2 linked regions of the Homo sapiens genome follow. The protein of the gene in region 1 binds, or shares a complex with, the protein of each later gene. Each region holds a gene or a part of one and is shown in the gene's direction. Other genes may lie near its edges.

Region 1 (3,753 bases):
ATTCATATGATACATAGGTCATTACGTGATTTTCTTTTGAACTAAAAAGTTTGTTCTCTGTGTAGGAATTCTTTAATATCTCAGGACATTAGCATGTTTCAGCAACATACTGGGTTTGGAGGTAAAGTACTAAATGTTTGACATTTATTTCATTTGATAATTGAAGTTTTCCTCAACGATTAATATAGCAATACATCTCCATTTATACTTTTAAGGAATTAGTAATTTTTAAATTACTTTTAAATTTGAGAACACTGTCATCAGTCATTAATACAAATTTAATTTTTTTAGTGGAATCAACTATGAAATTATAATCATAGATGATGGAAGCCCAGATGGAACAAGGGATGTTGCTGAACAGTTGGAGAAGATCTATGGGTCAGACAGAATTGTAAGTTATAAGAACATTTTTCTGTGATATGAATTGTGATTATGTAGGGGAAAGATGAGACATGAACAATGCTTAAATTCAATCTATTTGTTTAGAAACTGAAAAGATAAAGAGCAACTTACGCATTTGGGATTTAAATGCATTTTTGTTGTCCGTAAAATTTTACATATCTTTGGTATGTTGGGTCAGTGGTCATTTTACAGCAAAGAGTGAGCTTTTGGATGAACTCTGTTTATAACTAATTCTGCAGATAAATTTTCTTGAAGGGCAAAAATTAAAGCATGATACTGAATTGACAAGGAATATTATATAATTGGGTTATAATTGGTAGTGTGTGTGTGTCTTAATCTTTCTTGCTCCCTTTCGGTAAGTATTCTCATGCTTTCATTAGAGAATACTGCCTGAAATTAAGAGCGTGTAGGTAGAAAAAGTTACTGTTTTCTTGTGAAACATTAATGACTTCTTAGAGTACTTGGCATTTTTAGTCTATAGAATAGTCTTGTGAAAGTAGATTGACTGTATTAGTCCTAAACTTTAGATTCACCCACTGTACCTTGAAACTTGTTATTCTAATATAGAAGTTACTTAGGCAAATATAGAGTTTATTTTATAATGGCTTCATGAATTTTATTTTTGGTTACCGGTTTGTATTTACAAATGTTTATGTATACTCGAGCTCTTTTATAATTTATATTCACAAATTATTGCAGACCACAGTTTTTCAGTCTTGGCACTATTGACGTGTGGACAGATTAATTCTTTACTGTGGGGGTTGTCGTGTTTATTGTAGGATGTTCAGCACCGCATCTGGACTCTTCTCACTAGATGCCACTAGAAACCCCCCTCCCCACTTGGCAACTGCAAATGTTTGGATATTGTGAGATATTTCCTTAGGGGAAAAATTACCCTTTGCCTCCAGTAGAGAACCATTGGTATAGAGAAAGAAGTCCCTTTGAGAACCTTTATTGTTATTTACAGTTCAAGAAATGGTAAATTAATCATTTTAAAAAAAAGCCACTCAGTCTAAATATTCTTGATAAATCTCAGTAATAGAAATACTTTCTACTTAGAGGTGAGTGTCAGTTGTATGAGGTCTTGGTGGCAAGAGTTTAAAGGAACTGTGTTACTACATGGTAAATGTAGTTCTAGGAATTCTTTCAGTCTGTCTCACAGATGAGTAACTCAGGTCTGTCACACCTCAAGTCTTCTCTGAAAACCTTCTAATGGATGGGAATACAGAAAGAGGTAAAAAGTTGACAAATTTTCAGGCTTCTAGCAGAGACTTTCAGTAATGCTAGGTTTGAATTTTTGGCCAGTAGTTCCCTGTTTTCTTTAGAAGCCCAGGGTGAAGGCCACTGATTCACAACACTTTTGAGTTATGTGCTGCCATTTAATCTCGGACCATCAACCAGACAACATTTTGAATACTTTTGTCATAAAACCTCAGCCTTAGGATGTGATTGATTGATTTTAGGGAATGGTTACTAAACTGACCTTTCAAATTTTGGAACAACATTGTCTTCAAAGACATTTTTTCTATCAACCCAATAAAATTCAAAATGAGAAAAAAAGTTGCATTCACTGTTACGATTTCCCTCTACTACCAGATAAAATTCCTTATTCATTCATTATTTTATGACATTTAAATAAGTTAAACTAGAAAATGACTTTTAAAAAAAAACAGTATTAATCCATGCTAGGGATGACACTTGCTTTTAGTGACAGATGTATGTTTCGTTGAGAAAATGAAGGATATTGAAACCATGTTAGAATACCTCAGATAAAGTGTTCACCACAGATGCTTTGTCAGCCTTTCAGACTGGCTGAAATGAATCTTTCAGAAAAGAAGCCAAAGAAGATATTTTTAAAAATTCTGTAGGTGACACAACTGAAGCGAGAGGTTAGGTCATTTTTAATGACCTAACTAGGTAGGACCATAGAGAAATTGGGGGCACTTACTCTGAACTATTCACAGTGCTTACAAGGCAGAGATCTGAAATTGTGAAGGACTTCAACTGCTCTGTGTTGAATGCTTTTATTATGTTTGGTTTATGTAGTTTGTTTCATCTCCCAACTTGAGATCAGATAAAGTCATTTATATTTTGTCATATTTTCTTCCAGCTTTATTGAGGTATAATTGACAAAGTTATATATATTTAAAGTATGAATACCACATTTGGGGAATGAACCTGTCCATCACCTCACGTAGTTACCCTTGGGGGCAAGTTGACAGTGATGAGGACAGTTAAGATCTGCTCTCTGTAAATTTCAACTATATAATATGATACTATTAACTATAGTCACCGTGCTGTGTGGTAGATTCTTAGAACTTTGTCTTACATTTTGTCATTATTTTATAGTTTAGTATTTTAAAAACTTACTCTGATAATAAAATGTAACACGTTTATTATTCTTAAAACATCAAATGTAAGATAAAAAGGTTTGACTACTTGAAAATATTAAACTTCTGTCCATTCCTAAATACCAAAATATTTCTAACAAGATCAGTACCCCAACCAACCAGATAATTCATAAGACCAAAACTAGAAATGGCCAGTAAACAAGAAAAAAATACTGAGCCTCACTGATAAGTGAAGATTTACAAAACAGGAGGAGAGTACATATTAGCCTTATTAGCTGAAGATTTATTTTTATTTTCTCCTTTCTTTTTAACCCAGTGTTTCTGAGAGTATTATAGAACAAGTCCACTCAAATACTGTTGATCCTAGTATAAATTGATACTGTTTTTCTGAAGTATCATCTGGCAGTAATCTCATGACCCTCAAAAATCCTTAATGCCTTTGTAATAAGTATAAAGCAGTTTATAAAACTGTATATGTACTATAGTCTCAATTCTGTTTTTAAGTAACTTTTTTCAAGATTGTCTGTGATAAGTTTTACAAAGGTTCTTGTCAAACAAATTATAGTTTCCCATAAAAGTATTTTATAAGCAGCTGTGGCAAACATGCTTCAAAAAGTATATGCCTGTCATTCTTGCAAGCACTTTATGTGAATCCACTTGCTTGTTCCTCATGAAAGCCAAGTGAGAGGGGGCTTTGTCACGCCTCTTTATATTCTCAAGATCACATGGCAAATGAGTAGTGGCCAGGATTCAAACCCAGGCATTGTGGTTCCAGGGTTCATCTTCCTGTCTGTAATGCTATCCTGCCTCACATAGAAAGGGGCCATCAGATTGATATGAAGAGGCAAAAAAGGATCAGGGGAGGGTGGAGAGGTGGAATTAAGAGTCTGAAAGTAAAGCATACCAAATAGAAATAGTTTGGATTTCCTACATAAGAAATAAACAAGCACATCCTTGTAAAATATAAATGTTACCAGTAAAACCGAAGTTGCCTTTGATG
Region 2 (2,826 bases), on another chromosome or scaffold:
TACTGATAAAGACATACCCGAAACTGCAAACAAAAAGAGGTTTAATTGGACTTACAGTTCCACATTGCTGGGGAGGCCTCAGAATCATGGCGGGAGACAAAGGCACTTCTTACATGGCGGTGGCAAGAGAAAAATGAGGAAGAAGCAAAAGCAGAAACCCCTGATGAACTCATCAGATCTTGTGAGACTTATTCACTATCATGAAAATAGCACGGGAAAGTCTGGCCCCCGTGATTCAATTACCTCCCCTTAGGTCCCTCGCACGTGGGAATTCTGGGAGATACACATCAACTTGAAATTTGGGTGGGGACACAGCCAAACCATATCATCTGAATGACCATATTTCTTCCTTTTTAATGAGTTGCCCCACAGTTCTTCTAGTGTGTGATCTCTCTGTTGTGGCAAGTTAATAAACCTAACTGTCAAACTACAGATGTGGTCTTTATAAGACAGGCTTATCAATTGTCTTTCCTTTCTTATATAACTCTTTGTTTCCTCTGAAGTTGATAATTGCCTAACCTTTTCTCTTACTTTGTTCTCTCTCTCTCTTTCTCTCTATACATAATAAATTCATCCCCAAAACTGTTCTAAAGAATTATACTCTTTCTTTCAATGCCTTCACCACTTCAGGTAATTCTTCTGGTCTTTCTTTTCTTTTCTTTTTTTTTGAAACCCAGACTCCTGGAGCCCTTCTTCCTCTGGCTCCAAGTTATATTGGTTGTTGTCCTTGTAAAAATATGACTACCTCTGTTCTAACAATAATCTCAAGCCTTCATGGTTAGTTGTCAATGCAACTGCTTCACTGACTCCTGCTTTCCCCCTCCACCTGAAAGGGGTCGAGTCTCTTGACATCTCTGTATCTCCAAAGTCTATCATGGTAATCAAGAAATGTTCTGGCCGGGCGCTGTGGCTCATGCCTGTAATCCTAGCACTTTGGAAGGCTGAGGTGGGCCAGTCACTTGAGGTCAGGAGTTTGAGACCAGCCTGGCCAACATAGTGAAATCCCCGTTCTCTGCTAAAAATAAAAAAATTAGCCCGGCGTGGTGGCGCGCGCCTGTAATCCCAGCTGCTCGGGAGACAGAGGTTGCAGTGAGCTGAGATCGAGCCACTGTACTCCAGCATGGGCAACAGAGCGAGACTTTGTCTCAAAAAAAAAAAAAAAAAAAAAAAAAAAAAAAAGGAGTTCTGTCCCGCCTAGGCACTATAGAGAGACCCTGTCAAGAATGGAAAGAAAGAAATCTTCGAATGAATGAACTAGTGAATGAAGGAATGGATTTCAGCGCTGGAGAATTGAGTTTAAGGGGAATGGTATTATATTCCCATCTTGTTGCAACATTTAAGGATGTCCTCAAGCCCCACGCCAGCCTGGAGCGTAGCCCAAGGTGGGAAAGCAGCGCCGAGGCCTCTCCAGACCCGGCCTGCTCCCCGTTTGCGGAGCACAGCCCACTGTACCCCCGCCTAGATTGAGGCGCTGGCCAGGAGTACACCAGGCGCCGCCATGTGAACTACAACTCCCAGAAGGCCGCGCGGAAGCGGAACGTGAACCAGGGAGGACTTCCGGACGCCAACATCCGGGCCGCGCGGGGAAGGGGAGACGTGGGGTAGAGGTAAGTGTAGGTTGAAGGCTGAATGGGGAGGGCGAGAGATGGGGAGTGGGTCTCAAATATAGAGGGGGTAGCAAGGTGGAAGGGGCCCTTCCACCTTTTGTGGGCACTCAAGTTCGGACCTCTGGGATCGGCGATTCCCCTCTGGCCAGGGCTGGTTTTAATGCTCTCCGTGGGCGGGCTTCGGTTGAGTTTGGTCCGCTTTTCCTTTCTGCTCCTCAGGGGAGCATTGCTTCCTTCTCTCGCAGTGACCATGACGAAATTAGCGCAGTGGCTTTGGGGACTAGCGATCCTGGGCTCCACCTGGGTGGCCCTGACCACGGGAGCCTTGGGCCTGGAGCTGCCCTTGTCCTGCCAGGAAGTCCTGTGGCCACTGCCCGCCTACTTGCTGGTGTCCGCCGGCTGCTATGCCCTGGGCACTGTGGGCTATCGTGTGGCCACTTTTCATGACTGCGAGGACGCCGCACGCGAGCTGCAGAGCCAGATACAGGAGGCCCGAGCCGACTTAGCCCGCAGGGGGCTGCGCTTCTGACAGCCTAACCCCATTCCTGTGCGGACAGCCCTTCCTCCCATTTCCCATTAAAGAGCCAGTTTATTTTCTAACTTCGTTTAGTTTGAGTATGGAAAACGGGTATTGGGGATTCTATGTACTAACGGTCGAGAAGTGAATGTGAAAGAACCACCTTCTTGAGGCCATCTCAGCCTTTATCTTTGCATCTTGCTGGTGTTCCCATTTTTGCTCCCAAGGAGGCAAAGACCCCTTCTCAATATTTCTCAGGATGGAAATGACATTTCACTTTCCTGGTCCTTTCAACCCTGTAGGAAGTACTTCTTTTTTTTTTTTTTTGAGACGGAGCCTTGCTCTGTCGTCCAGGCTGGAGTGCAGTGGCGTGATCTCGGCTCACTGCAAGCTCCGCCTCCCGGGTTCACGCCATTCTCCTGCCTCAGCCTCCTGAGTAGCTGGGACTACAGGCGCCTGCCACCACGCCTGGCTAATTTTTTGTATTTTTAGTAGAGTCGGGGTTTCACCGTGTTGGCCAGGATGGTCTGATCTCCTGACCTCGTAATCCGCCCGCCTCGGCCTCCCAAAGTGCTGGGATTACAGGTGTGAGTCACCGCGCCCGGCGTACTACTTCTTTTTTTTTTTTTTTTTGAGACAGGGTCTCACTCTGTTGCCCAGGCTGGAGTGCAGTGGTGCAATCATGGCTCACTGCAGCCTCAC

What was found. Proteins that work in one complex are often made in the same cells at the same time.
Region 2: DPM1 (region 1) and DPM3 share a complex: the UniProt entries of both Homo sapiens proteins name them as parts of the dolichol-phosphate mannose (DPM) synthase complex.

What each region holds. Positions count from the first base shown.
Region 1 is NC_000020.11:50,951,824-50,955,576, reverse strand, and holds part of DPM1 (dolichol-phosphate mannosyltransferase subunit 1), read left to right. Parts: intron 1-291; coding exon 292-391; intron 392-3,753. UniProt on the Homo sapiens protein: Transfers mannose from GDP-mannose to dolichol monophosphate to form dolichol phosphate mannose (Dol-P-Man) which is the mannosyl donor in pathways leading to N-glycosylation, glycosyl phosphatidylinositol membrane anchoring, and O-mannosylation of proteins; catalytic subunit of the dolichol-phosphate mannose (DPM) synthase complex.
Region 2 is NC_000001.11:155,139,272-155,142,097, reverse strand, and holds DPM3 (dolichol-phosphate mannosyltransferase subunit 3), read left to right. Parts: upstream 1-1,566; 5' UTR 1,567-1,607; intron 1,608-1,690; exon of another isoform or gene 1,691-1,767; coding exon of another isoform or gene 1,768-1,857; coding exon 1,858-2,136; 3' UTR 2,137-2,207; downstream 2,208-2,826. UniProt on the Homo sapiens protein: Stabilizer subunit of the dolichol-phosphate mannose (DPM) synthase complex; tethers catalytic subunit DPM1 to the endoplasmic reticulum.